6 linked regions of the Homo sapiens genome follow. The gene in region 3 interacts genetically with the main gene of each other region. Each region holds a gene or a part of one and is shown on either strand. Other genes may lie near its edges.

Region 1 (4,929 bases), on a different chromosome or scaffold from region 3:
CAGGGGTTCTCTATTCCCTTCTCTGTAGCCTGAATCATTAATACGAAAGACTGGATATACCCTGGAAAGTCTTAAGCCTTGTCTCATGGACCTTCACCAGACCTACCTCAAAGCACCACAGCATGCACAACAGTCAATAAGAGAAAAGTACAAAAATTCAAAGTAAGAATTAACTTGGATATTGAAGCTTACTTTTCTAGATTATGGTTCAGAGATCTTTGACATTTTAACCTTATTCATGAATCTGCCATAGCCTCCTTGAGAAGCTGTTCTCTAAATTGGTTATGTGTTTGAAGAAGGTTGTAGTTCATGCTTTCTGCCCTGGGTCTGGGGGAGAAGAGAGAAGGAAGGGGGCATGCATGTGTGTTTCAGGGACCAGACAGTGTTTCTAAAACCATCAAGTCGGTCAGACAGAAATAGCATTTTTTAGTTCCCAATACATGAGTACAAACATTATTCCATGATCTCCTTTACCCAGTGAGTGTTTACTAAAAATGCTTTTTTTTTCCCTACTTACAGGTATCATGGTGTTTCTCTCCTCAACCCACCAGAGACACTAAATCTGTAACAATGAAAGACTGCCTTTGTTTTCTAAGATGTAAATCACTCAAAGTATATGGTGTACAGTTTTTAACTTAGGTTTTAATTTTACAATCATTTCTGAATACAGAAGTTGTGGCCAAGTACAAATTATGGTATCTATTACTTTTTAAATGGTTTTAATTTGTATATCTTTTGTATATGTATCTGTCTTAGATATTTGGCTAATTTTAAGTGGTTTTGTTAAAGTATTAATGATGCCAGCTGTCAGGATAATAAATTGATTTGGAAAACTTTGCAAGTCAAATTTAACTTCTTCAGGATTTTGCTTAGTAAAGAAGTTTACTTGGTTTACTATATAATGGGAAGTGAAAAGCCTTCCTCTAAAATTAAAGTAGGTTTAGGAAAACAGACCCTCAAATTCTGACATTCATTTTCCTAAGCAACTGGATCAATTTGCTGACTTGGGCATAATCTAATCTAAGCATATCTGAATACAGTATTCAGAGATAGATACAGTAGAGATTCCCCAGACTTTTTCGCTCTTTGTAAAACCTGTTTGTTTAGGTTTTGCGAGGTAAACTCAACAGAGGTTGGGAGTGGAAGAGGGTGGGAAGCTTATATGCAAATTAACAGACGAGAAATGCTCCAGAAGGTTTATTATTTTAAAGCACATTAAAAACAAAAAACTATTTTTAAAATCCTGCTAGATTTTATAATGGATTTGTGAATAAAAAATACCCAGGGTTCTCAGAATGGAATAAATATCCCTTTTAATAGTTATATATACAGATATACAACTGTTAGCTTTAATTGGCAGCTCTCTTCTTTTTTCTTCTTTTCACTGGCTTTTTACTTGGTGCTTTTTCTTGTTTTGCACTGGTGGTCTGTGTTCTGTGAATAAAGCAAAGTAAGAATTTACTAAGAGTATGTTAAGTTTTGGATTATTGAAATAAGAGGCATTTCTTAGTTTTCCAGTAGGATCTAAAATGTGTCAGCTATGAGTAAGACTGGCATCCAAGAAGTTTATATTATAGATTTAGGTCCTAATTTTTATAAATCACAAGGTAAAAAAATCACAGAACAGATGGATCTCTAATGAAAAAGGGATGTCTTTTTGTTTATAGTCATGTGGCAAGATGAGAGTAAAACCAGAGAGCAAACCTCTATAAGTGTTGAGTATATGTATACATTTGAAATAAACCAGAAATTTGTTACCTTATTTTCTTTGGATTCTTGTCTGGTTCCAAAATGATCATTTCTTCTTCTTCACTATCTGAGAGTATTATGGGAGCATCTTTGTTTTTTTATTAATTTAAAAAAAAAAAAAAAAGTTAAGCAATCTCTTGCAAAATTTATTTCTACATGAATTTATTTCTATCAGACGTTCTAAACTCTTATTTCTGGGGCTGGGCGTGGTGGCTCACACTTTTAATACCCACATTTTGGTAGGCTGAGGCAGGTGGATTACCTGAGGTCAGGAACTCGAGTCCAGTCTGGCCAACATGGTGAAACCCCAGCTCTATTAAAAATAATAGAAAAATTAGCCAGGCGTGGTGGCATGTGCTTGTAGGCCCAGCTACTCGAGGCTGAGGCATGAGAATCGCTTGAACCCATGGAGGTGGAGGTTGCAGTGCCACTGCACTCCAGTCTGGGTGACAGAGCAAGACTCCATCCCAAAAAATAAAAATAAAACTCTAGGTGGAGGCTTAATCTTTTCTTTAAATCAGCTTCTTAGAGCACTCTAGAACTCATCTGTAACATTTGTTTCTTTAAACTCTTATTTCCTACAGGTGCTTGAATGGTGTGACAATTTGGTACATGTCATAATAGAAAAGCTAGGGGGAAATGTATATAGCATCTTTTGTAGAGACAACTGAATTGTTTGTGCTACTCTATTCCTCCAGAAATAGTTCCAGTTTACATTCCAAGAAATAAAAGAACCCATTTCCCATATACCTTTGGCATTGCTGGTGTTTTTAATACTGCCCAAAATACAGTAACAAAAAATGCCATGTCATTTTTCTTTGGATTTTATTTGTATTACTGTCAGGGCTGACCATGAAAAATATTACTGGCCATTGTATACTTTGAGAACTGCTCCATGTATTTTGCCCATTTTTCTCCTGCTTATTAGTTAATGATATACATAAAATGTGAATTAACCCATATCAATTATTTGTATTTTTAGTTTTCAATTAGTTTCTCCCTTTGTTCACATGCTTTAGGAAGGCTGTACCTGCTCCATTTTTCCAATGCTTAGGTCCACCTTCATTATATTCAGTTGAAAATATTATTCACTGTTAGAAGAATACACTAAACAAACATATAAGAGGTATATGCAAGTGCAAGGATATTAACAGTGAGAAAATGGAAACAACTTACATCTTCAACAATAAGAGAATTGTTAAACCAACTAGTTATATTCAATGCTATACAAGTATATGCAGCATTAGCTTACATCACTGCACAGAGAGTAAATAAATACCTGGAACAAGTTCTGGAAGAATAATACCAAATAGAAGTAACCACTGGGAAATTTGAGTAAGGGTCCCAATCAATGGGAAATTTTTTCCTTACCTATTTACTTAAGTAAAAAAACAAAAAGCCCAGGCTCCAGTAATGTTCATAAGCAATAATTTCTCTCTTTGAAAACAGAAGTATTTGCATTACATTCCTATTAAACACATCACCTTCAATTTTCCCTGCCAGCCTAGCTCCCAGTTCCTTGTAGGATTTCTGTTCTTACCACGTAAGAAAATAAGTCATTCTATTATATAGACCAGCAAGAATTTGCTTTTTTTAAAAAGTAGAAATAACCATACATAACAACTTCAGTTCTATGGCTTTCAGAATGCAAGAAACGTCTAGGACTACCAGTATTCTAGTTACTTATAGAATTTTTTTATGTTCTAATACTGCGATGTCTAGCATGGTAGCCACTAGCCACATGTGGCTGCTTAATTTTGTATTAAGTAAAATTTAAAATTCAGTTCTCAGTAACACAAGCCACATTTCAAGTGTTCACTAGCCATGTGGGGCTAGTGGCTGCTATACCAGTGTAGATACTTAATGTTTCTATCATCATAGAAAGTTTTATTTAGGCAGTATTATATGTTATGATATGGGATGGGCTTTTTGTTTCAGTCTAGAAACTACAAAAAAAAAGACAGCAGGGAGGAATAAGATCTTCAAGAAACTCATTCCCTTAAAACCCACCCACATACATACACACACACAAAATTTTTTTAATTAAAAATATCACTATCATTTATGCCAGTGTTCCACTACTCTACAAAGATATGCATATTCTTTTAGAAAGTAGCATTAGTATTGCAGCTAGCCACAATAATTTAGTTGAAATTTAAATCACAATATTTAGCCCCTCTAAAAATGCAATACTTACATCCCTATATATAACTACATATCTATATTCTCTCTATATAGTATCCTGTATGTTATTTATCCACTATACATCTCTATATAGCTAATATGCTATATATTACTATATACAGTGATAATATAAATATACACACATTTTATGCATTATATATATAACTATACGGTAATACTATATGTATGTAATATATAGTAAGTGTGCCATAAAGTGTCACCTACCTTGGCTTCCAATATCAGAGACTTCTACTCCAGTGTCCATTTTTATACCATCAAGAATGATAGCTTGATCACCACCGCCTTCATCATCTTCCTTCTCAGAGTCTTCAAGATCACCCCAGGAGTTTTCTACTCCCTCTCCAATTTGGGCAGTTCCAGGAGTCCATAGCACAGGTGTAGAAACACTTAACAAGTTAAGAAAACTGAGTAACAAAAATATTGCTATTTGATGAACTGTTGAAGATGAGAATGAAAGTTTTCTTCTTGTAAGATTGATTCAAGTGTGCCCCAAGTTCCTAGGGGAAAAAAAACTTAATATAGCTACACTATGGATGGCTGAACAATGAAGAAGAAAAAAAACTCAGGCAAGATTTTATGGATGCAATTAATAAGAAATGTGAAGAGACAGATTCTCTCAACATTTTAGTTATAGTACTAAATTAAATTGGTCCTTAAAATCTGTTTTTTCCAGGATAACTGAATAGAAGCTGAATGTTATACCATCAACAGAATATGACTCACATCTCTATCTTGTATTTTAAGTGTTTTCTCTAACAAAGTACAGTGTTTACAAAAACTAATTTCAGTATACACATCCTTCATATAGCCTAATATTATAATGCCAAGTGTTATGAATCTTGTTACTGCAAAAACCACCAAATAAAGATACACTTCTGAAGGAGGTTCTGCTTCAGCAATGATTTCTTCTGCTTTTTCTTCTACATCCGAGGTATCAATAGGGGCCTTTTCCATTTTAAATGCTGTGATCCTTTG
Region 2 (5,329 bases), on a different chromosome or scaffold from region 3:
CTCTCCTCCTAACCCATTTCATTTGCAGTTATTGGCACAGAACTACACAGCATGTGCTATACTCAGGGGAATATCCTAGGAACAAGATTGGTGAATTTCATTTTTATGTTGGAATATCCAGCAGAACCTTCCACAAGTGTTACAGTTTTTAGCATTTAAACAAAACTAAATGTGTGTACTAGTGACTGCAAATTATTACGAACACTTTGACTGCAATTACATAAAAATGACCAAGGGTAGAGACAAAGATTAGGATGTCAGATACCCTTTACTGAAGAAATCTATTTGGTTCCCAAGTTTGGACAGCAAAAGTTTGAATATCGAGGGATATATGCAGACAAAAATGAAAATAATAGCATTCACATGTTATAATTACAGGTAATATTTTCCTGAACAATTTCTAACTGCTTTTACAATTATTTTTGTTAAAAAGAGGGGGCAAATCTACTGGAAAAACCAGCAGTGTCATTTCAAAAGAAGAAAACCATGCATCTCCAATCTACTAGATCCAACAGGGAAAGGAAGTGCCTGAAGAATGGGAAGCAAATAGACATTGTTTTTCCATCCACATGTGGGGTAGGGGAGCTTTCTGCCAGCTACCCAGCTATAGTCTGAATGTTTGCTGGTATCCCCCACAAAATTCATGTTGAAATCCTAACCCCCCAAAGTGATGGTATTAAGAAGTGGGACCTTTGGGAGGTGATTAAGTCATGAGGGTAGAGCCCTCATGAATGTGATTAGTACCTTTATAAAAGAGACCCCAGAGGGCTAGCTTGCTCCATCCACCATGTGAGGAAACAGCCAGAAGGTGACATCTATGAACCAGGAATAGGCCCTCAATAGTCACCAAATCTGCTGGTGCTTGATCTTCACCTTGCAGAACTAGAAAAATCAATTTCTGTCATTTATAAGCCACCCAATTTATGGTATTTTGTATAGTAAACCAGACTAGGACACTGCCATGTGATGCAAAGAAATAATCCTATTTTGGAATTATTTATTTTACATAGAAAGAATAGCCTCCCTTTGGCAGATGTTTAATAACTAAATATTTAAGTAGAAAAGTATTTATGCTAGGGTCTCCCAGGATCTGAGGTCTAACTTTGATAAAGTACAAAGTGATATCTTAAAATTGTAGATAGTGTACTGCTAAGCTGATAATAAAAACAAGGAAGCAACAATAAAATGATAAAGTGGCAGATCAGCAAATGTACAATTACAGGATAATAAGATTCTAAGCTATATGTAAAAATGGTGAACTGGAAATTTCAATAAGAATAAGAAGGTGAATAAGCATGAGGTGAACCAGGGGAGATAGGCAGAGTCCAGTTGAGGTATTAGTTTGTAGATTTATCTTGTTTAATACCACTGTTATGGCAATTATTTGTTTTATTGACATATATTTGTTATATATTTGAGAAATAGTTCTATATTAACATATGTATGTCTGTATGTATGTACAGTTTTATATATTAAACAGTACTTTATAATAATTATATCAAAATTATCATATTAAACAGTACTACTAATATATGGCCAGCCAGTAAGAGTGAATACTGTCATATGCTTTTAGCCAATAAGAACTAGTGCACAATATTCTATTTTCCTAAATTTGAATGGTACTTACCAATCTTTTTGTTTCCCCAGTGCCATTCTGAAGAGATCTGAACCCACAAGAGTAGATAAAAAGCATGCAAATTTCTTTAATTTAATAAAATTAATTTATTAAATTTAATTTAATTTAAAATTCTTTAATAAAAAAAAGAAATATTTTTATTATTTCTTGGCTCAAGTGCCAAGAAATAATATCAACATAGATCGGTGATTTTCAACCTTGGCTTCACAATAGAATCATTTGGGGAAATCTCAAAAACAAAACTACTTATGCCCAGTCTCCACCACCAAACCAATTAAGTCAGCATCTCGGAGGTGGGGCTGTGATATCGGTATTTTTTACATAACTGCAACCACAGGTGTTAAATATATGTTCTTTGCTAAAGGCAGGTGAGAATCTTAAAAGGACTAGTTGAAGAAACATGGAAAAAATTGCCACTCAGATTGGTACAAATCCTTTGACTTTACAAGAGGCACTGTAAACATTACTGTAACCTGAGAAAAAGACTAACAACTGTATCAACTATAAGAAACTGGCCAAAAGCATTCTGCAATTTCAGGAATTTGCAAACAGCAATGTAAAGACTGCCAATATACAACACTGGGGATGTATTTATAGGGATTATGGTATGCCAACCAACACCTTACCATGCTGGTTCAGTTAGCATTACCATCCTCGAGAACACAATGCTAGCACAATCTTCATGGTTAAATAATAATCTTTCTGGCATATTCATACAATGGAATACTATGCAGCCATTAAAACAATGCTGTATAGAGTTTAATGATATGAGAAAATATTCATTAAACACTGTTAAGTGGAAAAAATTAGGTGAAACAGTCTTACGGTATTACCTATTATTTAATGTTATACACACATACATATGTTTAAGGTCATCCACCAAAATGGATATAATTTGAGTACAGATTATAGTTAATAAACACTGTTAACATTTTGGTCATTTTGCTTTTATGTATTTACTGAACTTTCTACAATATGCACAAATTAATTTTGTAATGTGAAAAATCATTCATTCATTACATATTTGCATCCAGTGTATCGATTATGTGCAATTCTGATCTGTGAACCTTTAAGAAAGGCAAGATGAGGCTGGGTATGGGGGTTCACGCCTGTAATCCCAGTACTTTGCGAGGCCAAGGCAGGTGGATCATGAGGTCAGGAGTTCAAGATCAGACTGGCCAAGATGCTGAAACCCCATCTCAACTAAAAATACAAAAATTAGCCGGGTAGGGTTGCAGGTGCCTGTAATCCCAGCTACTCGGGAGGCTGAAGCAGGAGAATCGTTTGAACCTGGGGACCGGAGGTTGCAGTAAGCTGAGATCACACCACTGCACTCTAGCCTGGGCAACAGAGTGAGACTCCATCTCAAAAAAAAAAAAAAGAAAGGCAAGATGGAATTAGAAAAGATTCTTCAGAAATGATCAAATGAAATTATTAAGTGTTCACTTTCTGCCAGCCACTGTTCTGAACACTTTACATTATTTAACTCGTTTATTCTTCATGAGGTGATTAGAATTATTATGTCAATTTTTTACTTGAGAAGTCAAACTTTTTAGCCTCTAAGCTAAAAAGGGAGGAACTAGGATCTGAATGCAGGCAATCTGGCCCTGGAGCCCCTACTCCTAAGCATTATGCTACCCTAACTCTATAATTGAAATTGTTTCAATAGTAGATCCACCTTTTAGGTGAAGTCTTACTATGTAATTCTAACTCATTGGAAATGCTCAAGAAACCATGGGGCAGCTCTGATCTAGATCTCACAAAACAACCTAACCACTGTTTTACATACTGACCTTTAGTTTGCTTTCAAGATCAAAGTCACAAAGGGCCCACAGTTAGCCAGTCCACCTAAAAATATTTAGATATCCTCATTGTGTTTTCTACTTCATCTAGAAAAGATTAATGAAATTTGTATATGATATAATTATGAGATATCTATTAGTAATCCAATAATGCAGTGGATCAGAATAACTGGAAAAACTGTGAAACAAATTTGAGGTTATCCAACAGCAAATGTAGGATTTGGATCTATATATTACAAAAGATAGAAGGTAGTAACTAGACACACAACCACAATACTTTTCGTTGCTGTCACCTAAGACTGCTGAACAACTAGTTGTATCAATAACAACTTTTGCCTTCATAGCTCTTTATCATTTTCATAGCTGAGTTCAGTGGGTATCAATACCCACTGAACTCAGCTGGTCAAAGACCAGCAGCACCAAGAACCAACCACTTTCCTCTAAAAGCAGTTACAGTAAGTGGATTAATCAACCCTCAGTGATTGGGAGCGTGAGACAATTTAACTGTATAACATGTTATCTATCTGCTTTCTTGGAGCTTCCTGCTGCCTATTTGGTGAGATCTAACACTTTCTTCAAGTCTGGACTGCCCTTCACGATGCCAGAGGAAAATGAAAGAAAATACAATAATTTTGAGGCAGAACAGAAAGGTAGATAAAGAAATTGCAAAAATCCTAAAAGGAGAAACATGCCATAAAAGGAATGAGGAAAAAAGATAAACAGGGTATCAGTTAGGGAGTCCACATTTGAGAAGAAAAGCTCATCTCTCTTCCTGCCCTAAGTCTAAATTTTCAGTTAAACACAGAGGAAACACCCTGTATAAAATACTCTGTCTACATTATTTTGTAAATTTTACTCTCTATTGTATTATCTGAATAACTGTCCATCTTCGGTAATATGGCAGCTTGTACAGGCACCTAGTAAATACCTAAAATATGATATCTATTATCAGTGTAAATACTGAAAGTACACTGATAAGAAAACAAAAACATACAAAAATGAAAATACATTGAATTATCTGGCCTGGACAATTAAGGTGATTAAATATAAAACTGTTTGGTTGAGATATCTGTTTATTAAAAAGTTATTCCTGGACTCCTAAGAGGTAAGACATCATTAAAAGGCCTTAGAACAAGGCAGTAAAGTACAGTGGTTAGGCACTAAAGTACAGTGGTTATTAAGTTTTTGTCTGAGTCGACAAAAACTTAATAAAAACCACTGGGTCTCAATTGGGGTGATTTTGCCCCCATGAGACATTTAGCAATGTCTAGAAATATTTTTGTCGTCATACAAACAAACAAAGTGGGGAAGGGTAGTGGTACTACTGGCATCTAGAGGGTAGAGGCCAGGAATATTGCTGGACCTCCTACACAATATACAGAACAGTCCCCAAGAACAAATAATTATCCATCCCCAAATGTCAACAGTGCCAAGGGGAAAAACCCTGATGAAAAATTTCATTATGCCACTCATTAGCTGTGAATTTAGGCAAGTGATCTATCCTCTCTAAGCCTCAGAGCTTCCTTATCTATTATTGGAGATTTTAATAGTACCTGTTCTAATATGGTAGTATGAGGATTAAATAAAAAAATGAACTTAATAGGCTTAGCACAGTGTTTGGTATGTAGTAGGCGCTTTTATAAATGTTCTGTATACTATTAAAATAGTAAAAGTAAGCCTAAGATTCAGATCTTTACAGACATTAAAAGTTTAGGCAAACTTTATTATTCAAAGTCAAAATTCCTAAAGGAAAATACTATGGCACTACAATCACAAAAATATTTGTGTGTAAAATTTCTTTCCTTGTCAATTAAACAAAGCATCCCATCTTGATAAACCAATATGAAACCAATACCAAATTTATAATTAAAAAACAATAAATCAATTAATT
Region 3 (5,329 bases):
ACAAGATATAATTTATATTATAGTAGTGCACAGTACAGTGGGGAACACCTTCCCATACAGCTACCTGGCTGTGGGTCCCTGGTGGCAGTAGAACCCCAGGCCTCACAGGGTGGCTAAACCACCATAACAAGGCCCACCCCAACCCAGTGTGAAGAATGGAAAATCACCAGCCACAGGTGGCCTTGACAGTGTCATCTGTCTGTTCAGACTCAGTGTTAAATACCACCCCAGGGTCTATTTTATTACAAAGGAAACTGAAGTGACTAGAAAGTAAGAAGACTGGCACACACGCAGAAGATGAGTTTGAATTTAGGGAATGGAAAATGGCCAAGGAACGTTGCCCAGGTGCCAAGAACACACTGTGTTGCTTATAATCGAGCCCAGAATTTTCTCCCAATCCTACCACCACTAACTTGGCAGAGGATGAACAAGTTTGATTTCCACATCTCCTTACAGGATGAGGAAAGAGGCTCGAGTACAACTCCTTACCTTTTCCTTCAGTAGCTGAGTCTTCTTCATAGCGTAGTTGGGTGGAGCTTTTCTGAACCTTTCTTTCTCTTTTACAATCTGTACCAGAGAGGAGATACCAGCAGTGAGGTATTCCTAAGCTATTTTTGTAGACAGGCTAAGTGAGCCCATTTTGGATGCAAACAGCTAGTTACAAAGGGGCTGCTCTTCCTACAGCAGTGTCATGCCCCAGAGAGAGAGAGAGCGGGTTCATTCCAAGGGATACTATGCTGCTTCCTGGGTCACGGAGATTCTTCTGGGACAGGCTGAAGGAACATGCACCAAGAAACAGCAGCCCAAGGGCCTGGTAGTGTAAGGCTAGCCACTGTCCAAGAGAACAGAGATCAAATAATTTTACCAAGATGTTTTAGAAAAGGAAAACTCTTGAAGGATCAAGCCTAGCAGAATACAGACCCCTGAACCCTAAATACACTTTAGTGTATGTAGCCTCATTTGTTGTCTCATCTGAACTCTGAATACACTTCAGTCTATGTTAGCCTCATCCGGACATGAGAATGTATAGAAAAAAGCTTGATGAACTATAAATAATCAGGTAGTAATATTAGTATTCCCTCATTTTCATGCATAGCTAAAAATGTCAAGATATAGGGAAATAAAAGAGAATCATGTTCTCTCAACACTGGTTCTTGATGAACCTCCGGGTTCTGGGGCACCAGTTTTCTTACCTCTTCAATGTCCTGATCATTGAATTTATAATTAAGAGCTTCTTTAATAGATAATTCCTTTTTATTGATTTCATCTAGAGTGGGCAACTGCATGCCAGCAGAGAACATCTGGATCAAAAACACGATACGAGATTATTAGTAAGGGATTTTGGAAAGATATTTTCTCAACGTGCACGAACAACTGCTAGGTAATCTCTAGCCACGTACCGCTTCTTTCCACTTCATAAACTCACTTTCGGTGAATTCTTGGTTTGAGACAAACTCTAAACGGAACACGCGTTGGTCATTGCCATGCCTACATAAAAGAGAGACAGCATCTCCAAGAAATGTGCATGTTGACTGTAGTACAAGCAAAGCAACCTTACCAGACTATGTACCACCTATATATACCTATTGCAGTGGTTCTCAATCCTAGCTACCCTATAAAATCATCCCAGGCTGTTTTAATGAGCTGCCAAGATTGAGATCCCAAAGCTAGCACTGGAAACCAAATGGGCTTGGTCAGTGCTTCAAAAGTCAATTTACAATAAAATCCATTACAGTCAACATCAACAATATGCAACAGAGCCTGGGACAGGGTTACATGCCTGTGGTCACAGCTCCTCAGGAGACTGAGGTGGGAGGATCACCTGAGCCCAGGAGTTCCAAGCTGCAGTGCACTATGATGGCACCTAGAGCAGTGCCTGGCACACTGTACATTCGGTAAATATTTGCTGAGTGAATGACACTTTCATTTTACTGAAGAGGAAATGAAGTCCATAAAAATGATCTTTCTTGTCACAGATGAGGTTATGACATAGAGCCAGAACCAGAAGCAAGCCTCTTGGACATGCTTGCCAAGGAAATGCCAGCGAGGCTCTGGGAGGGTCTCTCATAACCACACATTTCCTTTCTCTGTGTCCTACCCCTTCATATATTTGGTTCCCTCTAGAGGAGAGAATATCCTACCTTCCCTATAGACAAAGATGGAATACAAGTCTCCCTCCAAGTGTACCTTGTGGGGATTGCATACATAGCGTTCATGGTAACAAGGAACATCACACAGAGAGAACAGCAGCCCCCAAAGCCAGTGCCTGTTTGAAGTGGAAGCAGAAGCTACCCCAGAAGTGCCTCCTACCGTAGTTGCAGCCCTTTGTTTGTTCTGGTGCCACCTAGTTGGTAAACTTTGGCAGTTTCCACAACACCCGTAATCTCAGCGACCTAAGTGAGAGGACAGAGACGCCAGTCAAAACCAGACTCTTCCGGAGCTTTCCACAACACTCTTCCTTTGCGTCTCTCTACCTGAACGCAGACAACTGATAGAGTGCTGAGTAGAGTCCACAGCTGCCAGGGGTTCTGAGAAAGGTTTCTCAGGTTTAGAATCCAGATGGCCAAGCACAGGGAGCCTTGTGCCCAGGAGGAGAAAGTGCCAGCAGAAGAGGAGCCCGATGGGGCCCACTGGAAGCTTTTCCTCCAACTAATTCTAACTTACAAGGGATGTATTTGGGATTTCACCAGTTGATTTTTATCAACCAAATGTGAAGACCATGTAGGTCAGTTTCTGTTGCCAAGCATTTCAGGATATGGCATGGCTGCAGGTCCTCATACAAGGGGATAACACACATAAAAACCAGACAAGAATAAAACAAAACAAAAACAATCCAGGCTGGGCGCCGAGGTTCAGGCCTGTAATTCCAGCACTTTGGGAGGCTGAGGTAGGAGGATTACTTGAAGCCAGGAATTTGAGACCAACCTCAGCAACACAGAGAGACCCAGTCTCTCTTTTTTTTTGTTTTTTGTTTTTGAGACAAAGTCTTGCTCTGTCGCCCAGGCTGGAGTGCAATGGCATGATTTTGGCTCACTGCAACCTCTGCCTCCCTGGTTCAAGTGATTCTCCTGCCTCAGCCGCCCAAGTAGCCGGGACTACAGGCACATGCCACCACGCCAAGCTAATTTTTTGTATTTTTAGTAGAGAGGGGTTTCACCATGTTAGCCAGGATGGTCTCGATCTCCTGACCTCGTGATCCACCTGCCTCCCAAAGTACTGGGATTACAGGCGTGAGCCACTGCGCCCAGCCGAGACCCAGTCTCTACAAAAAAGAAAAAAAAAATTAGTTGGGCATAGTGGTGTGCACCTACAGTCCTAGCTACTCAAGAGGCTGTTGTAGGAGGATCGTTTGAGTCCAGGAGTTCAAGGTTGCAATGAGCTCTGATCACACCGCTGCATGCTAGCCTGGGCAACAGGGCGAGATCCTATCTCAAACAGGCTGGGCACAGTGTCTCATACCTGCAAACCTAGCACTTTCGAAAACCGAGGCAGGAAGATGGCTTGAGTCCAGGAGTTCCGGATTAGCCTGGGCAACATGGTTAAGACACTGTCTCAAAAAAAAAAAAAAAACCCAACACCTGGGCCGGGCGTGGTGGCTCACACCTGTAATCCCAGCATTTTGGGAGGCCAAGGAAGGCAGATCACGAAGTCAGGAGATCGAGACCATCCTGGCTAACAAGGTGAAACCCCGTCTCTACTAAAAATACAAAAAATTAGCTGGCATGGTGGTGGGCGCCTGTAGTCCCAGCTACTCGGGAGGCTGAGGCAGGAGAATGGCGTGAACCCAGGAGTGGGAGCTTGCAGTAAGCCAAGATCGCGCCACTGCACTCCAGCCTGGATGACAGGGCGAGACTCCGTCTCAAAAAAACAAAACAAAACAAAACAAAAAACCAACACCAAGCACTTTAGGAGGCTGAGGCCAGAACATCACTTGAGGCCCGGAGTTTGAGACCAGCATAAGAAACAGAGAGAGGCTGTTGCTACAAAAATTTTTTTTTAAATCCCAAAGTGAGGCCGGGTGCGGTGGCTCACGCCTGTAATCCCAGCACTTTGGGAGGCCGAGGCGGGCGGATCACGAGGTTAGGAGATCAAGACCATCCTGGCTAACACGGTGAAACCCCATCTCCACTAAAAATACAAAAAATTAACCAGGCGTGGTTGCGGGCGCCTGTAGTCCCAGCTACTGGGGAGGCTGAGACAGGAGAATGGCGTGAACCTGGGAGCCAGAGTTTGCAGTGAGCCGAGATCGTGCCACTGAACTCCAGCCTGGGCCACATAGCGAGACTCCGTCTAAAAAAAAAAAAAAAGAGACTCAGTCTAAAAAAAAATCAGCCAGGCGTGGTGGCGCATGCCTGTAGTCCCAGCTACTTGGAGGCTGAGGCATGAGAATCGCTTGAACCCAGGAGGCAGAGGCTGCAGTGAGCCAAGAGCGTGCCACTGCACTCCAGCCTGGGCAACGGGGTAAGACTCTGTCTCCAAAAATAAAAAACAAAAAATTAAAAATAAGGCCGGGCTCAGTGGCTCATGTCAATAATCCCAGCACTTTGGGAGGCCGAGACAGGTGGATCACCTGAGGTCAGGAGTTCAAGACCAGCCTGGCCAACATGGTGAAACCCCATCTCTACTAAAAATACAAACAGTAGCCAGGCACGGTGGCGGGTGCCTGTAACACTAGCTACTCGGGAGGCTGAGGCAGGGGAATTACTTGAACCCAGGAGGCGGAGGTTGCAGTGAGCCAAGATCGTGCCATTGCACTCCAGCCTGGGCGACAAAAGCGAAACTCTGTCTGAAAAAAAAAAACAACAAATAAATAAAAATAAAAATAGGCCAGGTGCGGTGGCTCACGCCAGCACTTTGGGAGGCTGAGGCAGGTGGATCACAAGGTCAAGAGTTCAAGACCAGCCTCGCCAACATGGTGAAACCCCGTCTCTACTAAAAATACAAAAATTAGCCAGGTGTGGTGGCATGCGCCTGTAGTCCCAGCTACTTGGGAGGCTGAGGCGGGAGAATCACTTGAACCCGGGAGGCGGAGGTTGCAGTGAGCCAAGACCACGCCATTGCACTCCAGCCTGGGTGACAGAATGAGACTCCGTCTCAAAAAATAAAAATAAAAAAATAATAATAATGGTAAAATAAAATATAAATAAATAAATAAATAAATCCCAAAGTGTTGGGATTACAGGAGTAAGCCACTGTGCCCAGTCCACCTAGACCACAGAAGCAGTGCTGGAACCTACATAATAACCTGTATTAGTCTGGAGGGTTTTTTTTAACCTCAATACAATTCCCTGGTGTAGAAGTCACTTGGTATGCAACATGAAACTTTTCA
Region 4 (5,329 bases), on a different chromosome or scaffold from region 3:
CAGGCTTAACCTAGGAAACTGAAGCTTCCTGGTAAATTTGGAGCCTCAGTTGTATAAATATTAACACCCTCATTCAACTGGGAGCAGAGGGAGCATAACCTCCCCACCCTCTCTGTACATAAGCCTTCCCATCCCCCCATGCTACCCCTCCCAGTTGTCTGGCACACGCCATGCACTCAAGGCAAGAAACCAACCTGACCTCTTTTAACCTCCCCCTCCCAAAAGTAAATCTTGCCCGCTGAGCAAGTCCATTTTAATGCTAACCTCCCATCCTTGCTAGAAGGAAAGAGGAGGGAAGGCAGATAATCAGGCCACTAACACTGAGTGTGAATATTAGGACTTTAAACCTGTTGAAGGTAAGACACAAGCTCTTAGTACAAAAAGAAGGCCGACAGAGGGCCTGACCAGAAGCCTGATTTCCAGGCTGCCATGAGGCCAGCGAACTCAGGGACAGGGAGAAGGGGCAAGGGCTTACTGGATTATCTTTATGGGACATCTTAGAAGCAACAAACATAGGCAATATCTGCTTGCCAAGAGTATCCATGGGCAAGAGCCACATGTAAGCTCTGAAATGGAGATAAACCAGCATCTCTTCAGAGACGCTGCAGCACCTGATTTTTCTCCCTGACTCCTCTGCTATGCTTTAAGCACTGAAGCTCTTCCAAAAACAGGGGACACAAGTAGGCGGTGAAAGAGACTTCACCCTAGAAACTGAAGCAGAGAGGTTCCCTCCTTACTAGATATCTACATGCTGTTCAGATTCCAGTGACAACACCAAGACTGCACCAAGCACTCCTGACTGCATGTCCCTTTTTCAATTGTCAGAAGCCTGACAGCTCCCAACAGAGTACTGATGGAAGTAGGAGGGAGACCCAGGAGTCCTTTTCTGTTGGGGATGACATCTCTACCTTCTATGGGAGGAAGGCAAAATGAGCCTTCCTTCTTTCACCTAGAACAATGGTTCTCACCCCAGGCTGCATGTTAGAATCACTTATAATTTTTTTTTTTTTTTAAATAGACAGCCGGGCAATGGTGGCTCAAGCCTGTCTGTAGTCCCAGCACTTTGGGAGGATCCTAATTCCAAGTGATCCACCCGCCTCGGCCTCCCAAAGTTCGGCCAAGGCGGGTGGATCTCAGGAGTTCAAGACCAGCCTGGGCAACATAGGGAAACCCCAACTCTACAAAAAATATAAAATAGCTGGGTATTGTGGCACGTGCCTGTGGTCCCAGCTACTCAGGAGGCTGAGGTGGAAGGGTCACTTGAGCCTGGCAGGTGGAGGATGCAGTGAGCAGAGATCATGCCACTGCACTCCAGCCTGGGCAACAGAGTGAGACCCTGTCTCAAAAAAAGAAAAAGAGAGAGAGAGAAAAGAAAAAAAAAAAAAAAAAAAGGCCTGGGCCCACTTCTAGAGATTCTAATGAATTATTCTGGGGTAGGGCCAGATATCCAGGTGATTCTAACCTACAGCCAGGACTGAGAATCTCTGCCTGTGTGTAGGTATGTGGGGAGAGGGTGTGAGGGGGACATGGTGGGACATCATTGAGAAAGAAAAGCAGATAGAAGGAAGCTCCTTCCTTCATCTCTGCTCTGCTATTAGAGCAGGAATCAGTGTGGGTGACAGCTTTAAAAATAAGGGAAGAAGGAAGGAAAGGACAAAGTATCAACTTTGATCTTTACCTCTTCCTCAGGGAATTACTGGGCAGAGGGGTAAGAGCTATAGATCAAGGGAAAACAAAAGGACTCAATGTCCCATATGCAAGTGCCCGGGGGGAGAGACATTTGAGTCCCAAATGATTATCTCTTTAACCTGTTCTGAAATGTTACGGCCAGAACACCCACCCATCTAATAGCTGTGTGATCTCTGGCCTCTTATCAACTGGGAAGGGCTCAGGCTAAGGATAGACAACCATCTTCTCTGAAGTTCATACTCAGGAATATGCCACTTCTCCCTGTGAAAGCCCCAATCCAGGCCAATCCCACCCATCCTCTTTTGTTTAATCCTCTTAAAAAAGAGGAATGGGAGGCATAACCTACAGACCCAGGAAAAAAATTAATCATAGCTACCATTTGTTAAGCCCTTATTATGGGCGGGCACTATGCAGATGGAACCTACTTTCTTATTTACGTTCCTAAGTAGGGAAAGCGGGGAGTAGAAGAGGGTCAACACATAGACGGTGAGTCTCAGAGGTTCTGGACAGTCACAGGGACAGAGAGCATTTTCATTCCTGCTGTGGGAGAGTGTCCTGGGCCAGTTGGGCTACCTGGCGCTGGCATCCTCTGGAGCCTCTCCAAGGCTGTGGCCCGGGAGCACACTCTAGTCCTCCAGTAGCACCTACTCCAGCAGTGTCTTGAAGATCTGGGGCATGAGTTGGGGGCAGTATAATTACAGTGACTTGTGAGATAGGAAAAGGCTGGGTGTGGGACTGAATAGATGAATGAAAGATTTAGTAGAGTCTAAAGGACAGAGAAACAACTGCTCATCATAGCACACCCCGTTAAAAAGCAGATGAAAGGTCAGGCTTCTTACCAGCTCCTTGTGGTTTCCCCAGAGGTGAGAAAATCAAAAGAGTTAAAAGGAAAGGGAGTGGGGGAATGGGGATGAGGGAGGGAAAAAAAAGACAAAATTGTTATTAGCAAATTGTCACATGCACTACATGACAGTCTTCCAACACACTGCACCACAGGGCCCCAGGGGAGCCTAGCGAAATTTAGGGGCCAAGAAATTTCAGCTGGGGTCACCATATACCCCAAGAGAAAGAAGAGCATGAGACCCTTTTCCCTCTGGTGGTGAGGATGTCATGAAGCTTTGCCATTAACAGCAGCAGTTTAGGATCATCTGAAAACTAGGAGTTAGATGTTACCAGCCAGTGGCATGGAATAAGAAACTGGGGAGAGAAGGCTGAGGTGGTGGGGAAGCTATTAGAAATGGTAGAAGATGAAGCAGAAGTTAGAAATTCTTAGACTTGTAGCTGATAGAGGGTCAATAATTCTCAGGAGAGGAGTTCCCCTTCTTAGTTCATGGCCCTTGTCTTCCTATCTCTTAGTTTCTCTAGCTGTGAAAAATTAGACATTTGGATGGCAGAATCAGTCACAATGAGAGTGATCAGGTAGGAAGTCTGATATGACTTTAGGTGAGACAAAACAAAATATGTCAGGTACAGATGGTGAGTTAAAGGAATGATGAAGTACCTAAGTATAGCCCCGTTCTCATTTCCTCCTGCAAGGGAAGAGGCAGAGCTGCTCCTGGTCCCTTGTGCAGCCTGGCATGTTTGCCTCCACCTTGAGTGGCTGGTAACTCACCCTGCAGCTCCGAAGGATCTAGAGCAATTCTGCCATGATGTACTTACACAGAGGGTCCAGGGGACATCAAGATTCACAGGTACTAGCACATGTGCAGAACATGTTTCTTCAACCCTCTGTTCACAAGATTCACAGGGGTTGGAGGGTAAACAAAGGGGAAGGGTGAGAGTATTTCCAAGAGGCCTTATTTGAGTCTGGGCCACATAGATAAGGCTCCCACTTCCGGGCAAGGCTGGTTTAGAACTGCCAGAAGGGGATATCCAGTGGTATGTCCTGCCTTTCTAGGAGCTCTGCTGATGGGCAGATGGTTGAGGATGGTTGTATGCATATGAAAAACCATGGTGGGATTAAAAACAAGTGCTTCCTTTCACCAAGATTTCATCCAGATACCTCTTAATCACAACCTCTCTGTTCCCTAGACGATGCTAGGGTCCCAGCCAAGATTCCTCTTTCCACCAGGCACGGTGTCTCACATCTGTAATCCCAGCACTTTGGGAGGGCGAGGTGGGTGGATCACTTGAGGTCAGGAGTTCGAGACCAGCCTGGCCACCATGGTGAAACCCCATCTCTACTAAAAATACAAAATTAGCCAGGCATGGTGGTGGACGCCTGTAATCCCAGCTACTCGGGAGGCTGAGGCAGGAGAATCATTTGAACCCGGGAGGTGGAGGTTGCAGTTGAACCCGGCAGGCGGAGGTTGCAGTGAGCTGAGATCATGCCACTGCACTCCAGCCTGGGTGACAGAGTGAGACTGTCTCAAAAAAAAAAAAAAAATTCCTCTTTCAGCTCAGGGTAGAGGTGGCTCCAGATCCTGTGGTCGAGGCTGGGATGTCTCTGCATAGAGTGGGTGTAAGCACCCATAAGTGCAAACATGCAAACACAAAGGAGAAGTACACACACTATACCTTTCTCTGATTTGTCCCACCAAGCTAAAACCAGCTTGGGAGAAACTCAAGGAGAGAAAGAAGACAATGGGCCATAAGCTCAATTTCAAACCATGCGGATTGGGCAGAATAGGGAGGACAGAAAATCAAATAAAAGGAAAAGTGGTATATTAGTTTGCAGATAGTATATACCACCTCCAGGTCTGTCCTATGGGTGGGTTGAAGGTTGATGAGATTTTAGGCATGATTCCTGCATAACCTGGAGTAGTACTAGTCACCTTGATTGGAAGATTTCAAGTGCCCTGGCCCCGGGTGCCAGCTTACCTAGTACGTGACTCCCAGTCTCTTTCACTAAGGGACTCCCAGACCCCCCAGGGCTGTTTGGCTAAGTGGCTGTGCCTCAGAGGGCAAGATCTGAGGTTCTAAATCAGACAGGGAAAGTGGCCACTGTTACTCTCTGAGCCTATTCAGGCTGTACGCCAACACTGCAGCCAGGGTACTTCAAAACCATGATGACAAGGAAGATGGACAGAGCTGTAGAGTAAAACTGTCCGGGATGGATCAATATATTGCTGACCATCCATCCATTTCAAAAGGAGGGGTGCAGAAACAGAAAGACTCACAAAAGCACAAATAATCCAAGTTATCTTACAATTGCATATAAACCTCCTTCTCATCCCATTTACATTTCTCTAAAGACCTAGCATAGGGGAATATTAAAATGAGTTTTTCCCAGAGATAATCCACATACAGCCAAGAACTGAGGACTGTGGCTGTCATCCCTTTTGTTTTCTATCCTTGTCTAGAATAGCTAAAAGTCATTCCATAAAAAAATCTTCATTTGATCTTAGTCTGAGGAGGAGAAAGGAAACTGCCTTCTAACTCCAGCCCCTAAATGCCTCATGTTCAAAAACATTTAAAGCCTCCATGCTTCTATCCCATCCTCCACTGGACAGTTTTACTCTGCAGACCTCACAAGGGGAAGAGACAATGATTCATGGATCATAGCTGTTTCTAACCCTTGATTAATGATCTTTAAACATAAGGCCAGCAGGCCCCTCAGTGACCCAGCCAGGGACTCACTGGAATTTAAAACGATTAGCTACAACAATAGCACAGTGGCAGAGCATTGCATGCGAGATGG
Region 5 (5,329 bases), on a different chromosome or scaffold from region 3:
AGTGGATAGTCATCTCTAATGGCAAAATAAGACTTCCAGGAAAATATGACTCATTAAAAAAACACTTTTAGACACATCTATTTATTGCATGAAGAAGCGCAGGCTCACAGCTAGGGTCCATAGTTGCTCCAATTGCTAACGCACTTCAATGAGAAAAACTGGGGTTTTGTTTTATTTGAAAAATAATGCACTACTAAGTGCCAAAAGAAAAACAGCAGTGCCACGAATACCAGTCATAAAGGCATCTTCACCACAAAGAGGCTTCGGTGCACAGGCTTCAGGAAGTGAGACCAACTCCTCCCACAAATGTGACACTACTTACCAATGGCCCTGCGGAAGTTCTCCATCAGCACCTCTGTCTTCTTGATCTCAGTTGAGTAAACTTCACTCCCCACCATTGGGCAGAAGGGGACCTTACTACCCAGCTCCTGAGCAATAGCCAGAGCCAGAGCTGTCTACAAAAGAAAGCAACGGAAACACAGTTCACAGTCCTGAAAACATGACAGTTCAGAAACACATGCTACAGAACCACCAGGAACTAGGAACAGCTGAACATCTAGTCCTACCATTTAGCATGTTTCACACAATAAATGTTTGATGACTTTTGTGGACAGTCAATTTAAATCATAAATGGCATCTCTTATCTTCCCTATAATTACAAGTTATCATTCACTCAGACTTACCCAGTGCAGGCCCAACTCCAAATGCCTCACATGATCCTCACAACCAGCCTATGAAATAGACACTAGTATTCTCCCCATTTTACACATGAGAAACTGAGAGACATTAAGTAATGCAACGTAAGTACCATAATCTAGAAAATGGCAGCGCAGATTTAATCTCTGGCAGCAGGACTCCAAAGATCATGTTATCATAATTAGAAGAGTCTACTCTTCAGTATCCACAGGGATACCAAAATCCATGGATGTTCAAGTCCTGGTATAAAATGGCAGGGTATTTGCATATAACCTATGCACATCCTCCTGTTACTTTAAATCATCTCTAGATTACATACAATACCTAATATAAATGCTATGTAAATAGTTATTATATTGTATTTTTAAGTATGTATTATTTTTGTTATTGTATTTTTATTTTTTATTGTTTTTTTCCTGAGTATTTTTGATTTGTGGTTGGCAGAATCCACATACGTGGAACCCACAGATAGGAAGGGCCAACTTTACAGTCATCCAAAATTGTTCTCTCAATATCAATATATGGCTCTGACCTAATTGCTCCGAATACACCACTGGATCTTTGAGATACCTGCTTTCTCTTTTTACAAATACAGGAAAACACCAATCTACAACCCATCAGAAATAATGAAGGAATGAATGAATGGATTGTTCATTTTATGTTATGTAGCCCACAAAGAGTGAAGAAGGATACCTCAAGTAGGATTTTGAAGCTATGAGTTGGTCTTAACAAGTTACACTTAAACACGCCCTGTGGTAAACTACAAATTGATTTTTGACAAGATAATTACAGCTGGCAAATGCTAAACAGAACCAGACTTCACAGGTGTACGGTCAAATGTCAAGTATGGCAAGCAAATGCTTTAAAGTTGGTACAGAACTGGGCAATGCCATGGCCTCTAAATGCCATTTTCATCTTTCCTCAACTCTGAAACAGGAGCACGAGTAAGGCCAGCTCCCCAGGTATATGGGCTAAGACTGAAAACAAGCTTGTTACTGAAGAACAAAGTGAAACTGAGACGGTGTCTTAAAATTAACAGTCAAGGTTCCTCTCAGATTTTCTTTTCTATGCCCTTTTGGTGATAGTTTTGAGGTAGTAAAATCTGGTAGAGAATCAGTGTATAGCACAGTATAAAATGCACTAGCCAGGAACAGAAAGATTAGTGCTGGTTCTGCCACTAATTTTCAGTGTGACCTTGGGCACTCAGCAAATCTCAGGTGCCCGATTTCCTCATCTGTCAAATGAAAGTACTAAAGTGCCATGCTAGATCACAAGTGGCAAACTCGTTGCTCACAGCCTGGTTCTGTTTGGCCTGCAGTCTCATGGTGACCTTCAGCAAGGCCGAGCACCTGGGGCTCAAGGCAGACACGCCACAGTGCACCCAGCCACTTCCCTCATCCCCGTTGCCTGCCTCATTAGGCATCTGCACTTGTGAGCTCAAGGCTGACACCTTGAAAACTGGTATTCTTCTAAGAGCAAAGGAAAAAAATCTCTGGAACATGAAAGGGCACAATGAGAGGAGCAGCACTCTAACAGCAGACTCCCCGTGGGGCCACAGGCTGGACAGGACCACCCCTTCCCAGTTACTCCTTTCTCTTCCTTGTATCTCTGCCAGCCCCAATTCCCTACCCTCAGTTTTGAACTTCAAAGACAGTGACCACATCCAATTCAATGGCACTCTCCCTCCCTTTAACTAATACAGAAGAGATGAACATACTTCCATTAAAATATGATAAATACTTGGTTAAAAAAAAAAAGCTTCATGTGTGTCTCGTTTCCTCCATTTAAAGACTTCCAGAGGGAAAGTATATGATATGGCTACTATTCCTACACCTACTACAGAGTGCTGCATAGACCTCATCGAATCTCCCCAACTAGCCTATGACCTTGATCATCTAGTTTGTATTTTATAGATTAAGAAACAAACTCAAAAGTTACCAACACACCCAAGGTAAAACCGCAAGCAGCAGCACCAGGATGCAAACCCCAATCTCCAAAGCCATTTTTTTTTGTACTCACCCCATGTGAGTGACAAGTGGCACAAAAAAGAGGTTGTTGCCAAAAGAAGGTTGAAGAAATCTCTATTTTTCAATCTCATCTGAATATCTCCTTCTTCTAAAACCCAAACCCATTATTAACAGTGTGAGGTCCTCAAGAGTGGAAATGCATATGAACCATGCATTTGCATCTCTAAAATAAGCAGTATTTCTGCCTGTCACCCAGGTAAGTTGCCTAAACTTTGGGACCCTGCAGCAAACCATTAAGCAGAAGTCACCAAATTCCTTCATACACATTGGAAGGGAGTGGACAAACTTATAAGGTAATACCACAGTGCTGAGCACTTCTCATATTTCCTGGGAGGAAAGCAATACAATATCACCAAAAAAAATGAAAGACATATGCTTCTAGCAATATGGCACACTGGGTCCACTGAAAACCTCTCCTCTTACAAAACACCTAGAATTGAATAAATAATAACATTCAGAGCAGTAAACTATTTGCCTTGAAAGTTCAGAGACTGTAGATACAGGAAAGCTCAGCAAGGTATAGCACTTAAGATAGAAACCCCTGAATAAAACCGGGACTGGGCACGGTGGCTCAAGCCTGCAATCCCAGCACTTTGGGAGGCCGAGGCAGGTGGATTGCTTGAGCCCAGGAGTTCAAGACCAGCCTGGGCAAAATGGCGATACCCCATCTCTACGAAAACTACAAAAATTAGCCAAAGCGTGGTGGTGTGCACCTGTAGTCCCAGCTACTCAGGAGGCTGAGGTGGGAGGACCACCTGAACCCAAGAGGTAGAGACTGCAGTGAGCCGAGATCACTGCACTCCAGCCTGGGTAACAGACCACTGCACTCCAGCCTGGGCGACAGACTGAAACTGTCTCAAAAAACAAACAAACAAACAAAAACATTACAATTAAAAAAAAAACATAAAAGAGGACTCTTGAAGGGCCACACATGAGTAAAAAAGGTGGGCCATAACAAAATACATCTGGGGGCCAGGCACAGTGGCTCACGCCTGTAATCCCAGCACTTTGGGAAGCCAAGGCAGGTGGATCACCTAAAGTCAGGAGTTCGAGACCAGCCTGACCAACATGATGAAACCCCATCTCCACTAAAAATACAAAAATTAGCCAGGCACCTGTAATCCCAGCTACCCAGGAGGCTGAGGCAGGAGAATCGTTTGAACCTGGGAGGCAGAGATTGCAGTGAGCCAAGATCACGCCACTGTACTCCACCCTGGGCAAGAGAGCGAGACTTCATCTCAAAAAAAAAAAAAAAAGACATTATAACTTGTAACAATTTATGCAGTGTGTAATCTTTGATTGCATTTTGATATTCTGGTGTTTTTTAAAAAGCCAAAAACTGAAACAACTTGGAAAGATGTTTTCTGATTTCTATCACCTATATTTTCTTTTCATTAAAACAATTTAACTTCGTTGTCTTTGAAAGCACATTTGTTAACTGCTCATGGAATCATATGATGAGCTGCCAGGCTCCCTCATCTTTGTGATTTCTCTACCACAGTGGATATGGTTACCTACTCCTTTCTTTAAAGGTTCTCCTTTCTTGGTTCCTGAGACACCATTCTCTCCCTGGCTCTGCTGCTCATTTTTTAAAAATTAATTAATTTAATTTTTAATTGACAAAAATTGGGGGAATATAATAGCATTAGCAAGGTGGGTCTGATGATGGCACCGTGGTCATGTAGGAAGACATCCTTACAACTTACTGTCAAGTGGTTCAGAAATAAACTAGAGAAAAAGCAAATGTCACAAAATATTTATAACTGGCTATCTAGGTATAGGGTATAGAGGGGCTCATCACACTATTCTTTCAAGTTTTTTGTAGGTTCCAAACTTTTCAAAATGAAAAGGAAAAAAATATTCAATAGATTGGATTAATCAGTCACTTAATCATAGCTTAAGAGACAATTAGACTGGAACAAAGATCTAAAAGAAATTACCCATAATTTAGCAGAGTCAAAAAGATAACAAATATGAGAGGCTAAAAGACAAAGAGGACAAAACGAGAAGCTCTAGCCCAGGGTTTCTCAGCTTGACTCCATGACGTTTGTGGCCAGATAATTCCTTATTATGGAAACTGCTCTGTGCACTACAGGATGTTTAGTAGCATCCCTGGCCTCCACCCACTAGATGCCAGTAGCACCCCCAACCAAGTCGTGAGAACCAAAAATGTCTCCAGACGTTGTCAAAGTCCCCTGCAAGGGCAAAACTGCCCCAGGTTGAAAACCACTGCAATCTTAACCTCATCTCAGTGGAGTTCCAGAAGGAAAGAACAAAGAGAATGGGGAAAGGCAATAGCTGAAGAGATTAACGCTGACAGTTTTTTTGTTTTTTTTTTTTTTGAGACGTAGTCTTGCTCTGTCACCCAGGCTAGAGTGCAATGGCATGATCTTGGCTCACTGATACCTCTGCCTCCCAGGTTCAAGCGATTCTCCTAAGGCTGACAATTTTCCAGAATTGAGCAGAGACATAATACTCAGATTCAAGAAGCACAATTAGCATTAAGCATGATAAACAAAAATTAATCCACTCTGACATATAATAGTGAAACACCAAACCCAAAAATATCTCAAAAACATGCAGAAAGAAGACTCAAAACCCTCAAA
Region 6 (5,329 bases), on a different chromosome or scaffold from region 3:
TGGGTCCCTGACCTGAAAGAAACGTTAGCAGGTTATTTCATTCATTCCTCGTGTCACTAACCAGACTTCCAGTCTGGGGAATAAGTTGCATAAGATGATACTCTATTTTAGTGTCTCATAACCTTAATGGTTAGGAATTTTTCAATTCTGCATTAGCTATTTTTCTGTTACAAAAATGAAAAATAGGGCTGGGTGCGGTGGCTCACACCTGTAATCCCAGCACTTTGGGAGGCTAAGGTGGGTGGATCACTTGAGGTCAGGAGTTCTAGACCAGCCTGGCAACATGGTGAAACCCCATCTCTAGCAAAAATACAAAAAAAAATAGCTGAGCGTGGTAGTGGATGCCTGTAATCCCAGCTACTCAGGAGGCTGAGGCAGGAGAATTGCTTGAACCTGGGAGGTGGAAGTTGCAGTGAGCCAAGATTGCACCACTGCACTCCAGCCTGGATGACAGAGCGAGACTCCATCTCAAAAAAAAAAAAAAAAAGAAAGAAAAGAAAAGAAAAAAATAGTCTTAGCACAAGATAGGCATTCTATAAACACTCATTGAGGTTTTTTGCTGTTGCTGTTGTTGTTCCCAAATAACATTTCAAGTTGTTCTACCACATGTGTATATCACTTCAAGAGTCTACTGGCCAGGCTCCCCGTCTCAAGTCTTCTTTTTTTTTTGAGACAGAGTCTCACTCTGTTGCCCAGGCTGGAGTGCAATGATGCGATCTCGGCTCACTGCAACCTCCACCTCTCAGGTTCAAGTGATTCTCTTGCCTCAGCCCCCCAAGTAGCTGGGATTACAGGCACATGCCACCACACCCAGATAATTTTTGTATTTTTAGTAGAGACGGGATTTCACCATGTTGACCAGGCTGGTCTCGAACTCCTGATCTTAGGTGATCTGCCTGCCTGGGCCTCCCAAAGTACTGGGATTACAGGCATGAGCCACCGTGCCTGGCCTGAAGTCTTCTTCTTGCACCTTCCAGTACACATCCTATCCATTCATTCCAAGGAACCTTGCAACATACCCAACTCCTCCTATCACTCTTCTGATCAAAAGAGCCCTTTCTGGGACTGCGTCTCAATTCTTCGGCTGAGCATTCAAGGCCATCTCTCAGCCTGCCCCCTCCTAGCCTAGCCCCAGTGACTTCCCCAGCACAGATTTTACACTCCATCCAGGCCCTTCTCCCCAGGCACCATCCTCATTCTGGTCCCCATGTCTTTGTTCACGTTACATCCTCTACCTGGAATGCCCTTTCTTTTCCTCTTCTCCACAAATCCCAATCACAGCTATTCTTCAGAGGCCAACTCAAGTCTGACCTCCTTCATGAAACATTCTCTGATGAGTCAGGCCCACAGATATTACCACGTACTTTTTCTCAATCCACATTTTACCTCATAGCATACAACTGCATACCTGATTATATCTTTGCTCAGAGTGTTCTCTCAATATTCTTCTATAAGTCTCATCTCCCCAGCTATAGTAAAGATTCTTTGTAGTGAGGAACTATGTATCGTGGGGGTTTTTTTTGCTATCTTTCTTCACCTCACCCAGTCCTGGTATAGTGCTGGCCACACAATGGGCAGTTAGCCCACTCCCCAGTGTTCTTAATCCTAAGCTTCAGAGTCTCTATACATGGTTACAAGGCCTCAACTAAGGCTTGACTAACGTTAACCATGGTGGGAGGATTCATTCATTTGTCCATCCTGGTATTTAACCTGGTATTCAAAGCCGGTACTGGCTTTACGACTCCTTATCATGTAGTTCATCTATGAACTCCAGATATTTTTTTCTTTTTCTTTTCTTTCTTCTTTTTTTTTTGAGACAGGGTCTCACTCTGTCACCACTGGAGTGCTGTGGCACAATCTCGGCTCATTGTGCGATTACAGCTCACTGCAGCCTCAAACTCCCAAGCTCAAGCAATCTTCCCACCTCAGCCTCCTGAGTAGCTGGGACTACAGGCATGCACCAACACGCCTGTCTAATTAAAAAAAAATTTTTTTTTGGCCAGGTGTGGTGGCTCAGTTCAAGACCAGCCTGGGCAACATGGCGAAACCCCATCTCAACTAAAAATCCAAAAAATTAGCTGGGCGTGGTGGTGTGTGCCTGTAGTTCTAGCTACTTGGGAGGCTGAGGTAGGAGGATCACCTGAGCCTCAGAGGTCGAGGCTGCAGTGAGCCATGATCATGCCACGACACTCCAGCCTGGGCAAATGGAGTGCGACTCTGTTTCAAAAAAATATGTATTTTTTTTGTAGAGATGGGATCTCCCTATGTTGCCCAGGCTGGCCTCGAATTCCTGGAATCAACTGATTCTCCCACCTTGGGCCCCCAAGTGCTGGGACTACCAGTGTGAGCTACCACACCCAGCCCAGATTTTTCCTTGAGTCAGATAAACAATTTCCCCTCTCTGGGCCTCAAAGAACTGTTAAGGAAGTAGTCATGAAACTATTGGTCTCCAGGGTCCCTTCCAGCTCGAGACTTCTGTGGTTATGGGCTATGTGGCCAGATAAGTATTCTTGATGTCTCCGAAAGTTCTGACCAGTCCCACCACTTTCAGGCACAGGCTTTCCCAAGTCAAATGCTCCCTTATACCTCTGCATCTCTTCCTAGCTCACCACTACTTTGGGTACCTTTGAGTGGAGGTCAGTCCATGTCCATAGGTGGGGGCCTGCTGGTGCACATAGCCACTGGGCCGCTGTTGCAGGTGGCGGGTAGGATCTACAAGAGTAGGATTGGTAGAAGGGTGGGTGCTCTGGTAAGGCTGGCTGGAGTAGCTGGGGGGCACCATGGTACCTGCAGGGCCTGTGTGTTGCTGCAATCCCACATGAGAAACATAAGGAGTATAGCCCTGGAGGGAAGAAGGAGAGAGGGAATCAGGGCCGAGAGTATGCAGAGCAGCTTGCCTCATCCCCCTAGTCTCACAATCCCAGGCTCTTACCTGGGAAGTCTGCAAACCGTAGGAAGAGCTGGGAGTCATCTGATGGACAGATGACTGTCCCAACATGCCCTGACTCTGCTAAAGGGAGAAAAGAGAACAACTCAAACTCAGGAAATGCTTGCTGCCATCTCATCTCTTGTGTCTCCCACCCTGAGTGTCCTTGTGAAGATCCCAAGTGTCTCCTCCGTCCTGTGACCCTCAAAAGCCCCTCTCCCTGACAGCCCTCCCTACTGCCCCTCTCACTATCTTTGCCTGGAGCTGTTGGCGAAGGCGCTGTCCTTGGGGCACCGCAGGTTGCTGCTGCCGGTACACAGAGGTCTTATAAGAGGAGGGTTCTAAACCCATGACGCCAGTCATGGTTGTGGGCAGCACTCCAGGGTAAGTTGGTCGGGTGGGCAGCTTCTGCATTGGTAAGCGCACAGGACGGTATGGGTCCACACGAGGGCCACCTGAAAAGGAGAGTGGGCTGACCTCTAGGCTCCTCATCCCTCTGTCTCTTGCTCAGTGTCCTTGACATCCATAGCTCCTCAGGGGAATGGCATCATCCTTTGGGCAGGGGGAGTGTACAGGTAGGTCCCTCCAGCATTCCTAGTGGCTGGCACTCACCTGCAGGTAGTGGCTGGTTCTGGGTGTACAGGCCTATGGAGCCTTGCCTGTAGTTAAGGTGTGTTATAGAACCAGGGTTTGGGTGGTGCAGGAGGTCCGGAGGCACTGTCACACCATAAGGGCCGCTCCGACCCGGGCCCATTCCATAGTCCTGTGTGAGTGGCAGAGGAAGAGGGTGAGTGGGTTGTAGCTGAATGGGGTCGGGGAGCTGGGGGAGAATGAGGTAAAGAGGAGCTGAATTCGTATATGGTTAATTTTTATTATGATTCTAATGGCACCCCTTCCTTATGCGCCCCCACCCCTCCCACAAACCAGAAACCGGAGCGTCATGAAGTGAGAGGCTGTGGGAGAACTGTCACGGGGGAGGCGCTCACCTCTGTCTTGGTAGCTGGCTGGCTGCGTTTCTTGCCCTTGGTGGACTTCTTCTTGCGTTCCTCAGTACTGGGTGGAGCAGCCCCCGGTTTGTCAGTTTTGGGGGGCTCTGGAGCCTTTTTCTCAGGCTCTAGCAGGGTAGGAGCAGGCGGCTCCTCATCTTCTGGGGGCAGTGGCAGTGGCTCCAGGTAATAGGCGCGGGGCCGGGGCCTCAGGTGTGTGTGGTAGAGCAGCAACCGCTGCTGCTCCTCTCCTCGAGCCACTCGCCGGTCCACTCGGACTGTTCCAAACCAGCCCCAAGAGAGTGGTGCTGACGGCTTCAACCCCTCAAAAAGATCCCAGGGCGAGATCTTCTGTTTGGTGGAAACCTGTAGACCCTGCTCCAGAAAATGAAAAACAATAAGCTGTTGGGACTTAGAAAACAGAAGACTGCAAGCATTTGTAGGAATGGGTAGAAAGAAAGTCATAGGCAGATTCAGGAGAGATGGTAAGAAGCAGACAGACAGACATGGATACACATATACATGCGGAAGAGAGTTATGCGGGGAGAGAGTGAAGGGTGGGGCACAGGGAGAGGTGTGGAGGCACAAGATGAAGCCAGCCCAGACCAGGAGAGGAGATGAACTAACGGGGCGGGGGGCGTGTGGGGAGAGAAGATCGGGAGAGAAAGGGGTTGGGGAGAAAGCCAGAGAGGGAGCGGGGAGGGAGAGGGATTGACATTCAGAGGAAGACAGAAAAAGGAAGGCAGAGAAAGAGAGAGAGGAAGGCAGGGAGAGACTCTGCCTTTAGGCAGGCCGAGAAAGAGTCAGAGAGAGAAAGAAACAGGAAGAGAGAGACAAAAAGGTGGAGAGACAAAGAAAGGCAAACGAGTCAGACAGGGAGAGAGACAGAGACGGAGGAAAAGAGACAGATGGACTAGGAAGACAGATGAAGAGAATGTATATATGAAGGAGTTAGACTTTGGGTTTTAAACTATACACAATAATTATGGTTACTCAACAAATACCGCAACTGACAGAGAGGGAAAAGATAAAAGTGTGCAGAGATGGGTGGGTGTAGGGAAACACAGAAATAAAAGAGATACAGGCTGTCGGCCAGATAGATGGGTGGGGTAGGACATGGGGCAGGTGGAGCAGAGGAAAGAGGAGGGTAGGGTATTGAAAAATGGGTGGTATGTTAAAAGGTGAGGGCAGGGTGAAGGAAAGAGGGTGGGACTTCAAAGATGGAGATGAAATGTAAGGAAAGTTAAGTGATTTGCTCAAAACCCCAGAGATGGTGTTCACCGGCAGAGACTGATGGGCTCCTGAATCTGATGAGTCTGTTGGAGCTACAAAGCTGATGCAGGCAAAGTTCTTGCCCAAAGGGGAAAAAAGGCAAGGGACACGGGCAGACAATGGAACATGCCTCCTTCTTGAAGAT

The links.
Region 1: changes in RTF1 (region 3) and EXOSC9 together harm fitness less than expected from each alone (positive genetic interaction), as found in Homo sapiens cells (one large-scale study listed by BioGRID).
Region 2: changes in RTF1 (region 3) and SEC22B together harm fitness more than expected from each alone (negative genetic interaction), as found in Homo sapiens cells (one large-scale study listed by BioGRID).
Region 4: changes in RTF1 (region 3) and DCTN2 together harm fitness more than expected from each alone (negative genetic interaction), as found in Homo sapiens cells (one large-scale study listed by BioGRID).
Region 5: changes in RTF1 (region 3) and RUVBL1 together harm fitness less than expected from each alone (positive genetic interaction), as found in Homo sapiens cells (one large-scale study listed by BioGRID).
Region 6: changes in RTF1 (region 3) and MED12 together harm fitness less than expected from each alone (positive genetic interaction), as found in Homo sapiens cells (one large-scale study listed by BioGRID).

The regions. Positions count from the first base shown.
Region 1 is NC_000004.12:121,813,277-121,818,205, reverse strand, and holds the end of EXOSC9 (exosome complex component RRP45), read right to left. Parts: coding exon 4,826-4,929; intron 4,341-4,825; coding exon 4,159-4,340; intron 2,857-4,158; coding exon of another isoform or gene 2,834-2,856; exon of another isoform or gene 2,558-2,833; intron 2,063-2,557; coding exon of another isoform or gene 2,012-2,062; intron 1,838-2,011; coding exon 1,759-1,837; exon of another isoform or gene 1,435-1,758; coding exon 1,350-1,434; 3' UTR 1,185-1,349; downstream 1-1,184. Other genes in the region: CCNA2 (cyclin-A2), read left to right, coding at 29-162, 520-568. UniProt on the Homo sapiens protein: Non-catalytic component of the RNA exosome complex which has 3'->5' exoribonuclease activity and participates in a multitude of cellular RNA processing and degradation events.
Region 2 is NC_000001.11:120,169,238-120,174,566, forward strand, and holds part of SEC22B (vesicle-trafficking protein SEC22b), read right to left. Parts: intron 1-5,329. UniProt on the Homo sapiens protein: SNARE involved in targeting and fusion of ER-derived transport vesicles with the Golgi complex as well as Golgi-derived retrograde transport vesicles with the ER.
Region 3 is NC_000015.10:41,471,684-41,477,012, reverse strand, and holds part of RTF1 (RNA polymerase-associated protein RTF1 homolog), read right to left. Parts: intron 2,394-5,329; coding exon 2,311-2,393; intron 1,489-2,310; coding exon 1,401-1,488; intron 1,302-1,400; coding exon 1,194-1,301; intron 568-1,193; coding exon 490-567; intron 1-489. UniProt on the Homo sapiens protein: Component of the PAF1 complex (PAF1C) which has multiple functions during transcription by RNA polymerase II and is implicated in regulation of development and maintenance of embryonic stem cell pluripotency.
Region 4 is NC_000012.12:57,535,991-57,541,319, forward strand, and holds part of DCTN2 (dynactin subunit 2), read right to left. Parts: intron 2,535-5,329; coding exon of another isoform or gene 2,529-2,534; intron 2,358-2,528; exon of another isoform or gene 2,263-2,357; intron 1-2,262. UniProt on the Homo sapiens protein: Part of the dynactin complex that activates the molecular motor dynein for ultra-processive transport along microtubules. In the dynactin soulder domain, binds the ACTR1A filament and acts as a molecular ruler to determine the length.
Region 5 is NC_000003.12:128,112,566-128,117,894, forward strand, and holds part of RUVBL1 (ruvB-like 1), read right to left. Parts: intron 456-5,329; coding exon 323-455; intron 1-322. UniProt on the Homo sapiens protein: Possesses single-stranded DNA-stimulated ATPase and ATP-dependent DNA helicase (3' to 5') activity; hexamerization is thought to be critical for ATP hydrolysis and adjacent subunits in the ring-like structure contribute to the ATPase activity.
Region 6 is NC_000023.11:71,135,239-71,140,567, reverse strand, and holds part of MED12 (mediator of RNA polymerase II transcription subunit 12), read right to left. Parts: coding exon 5,315-5,329; intron 4,288-5,314; coding exon 3,913-4,287; intron 3,690-3,912; coding exon 3,539-3,689; intron 3,382-3,538; coding exon 3,185-3,381; coding exon of another isoform or gene 3,176-3,184; intron 3,011-3,175; coding exon 2,933-3,010; coding exon of another isoform or gene 2,843-2,932; coding exon 2,625-2,842; intron 1-2,624. UniProt on the Homo sapiens protein: Component of the Mediator complex, a coactivator involved in the regulated transcription of nearly all RNA polymerase II-dependent genes.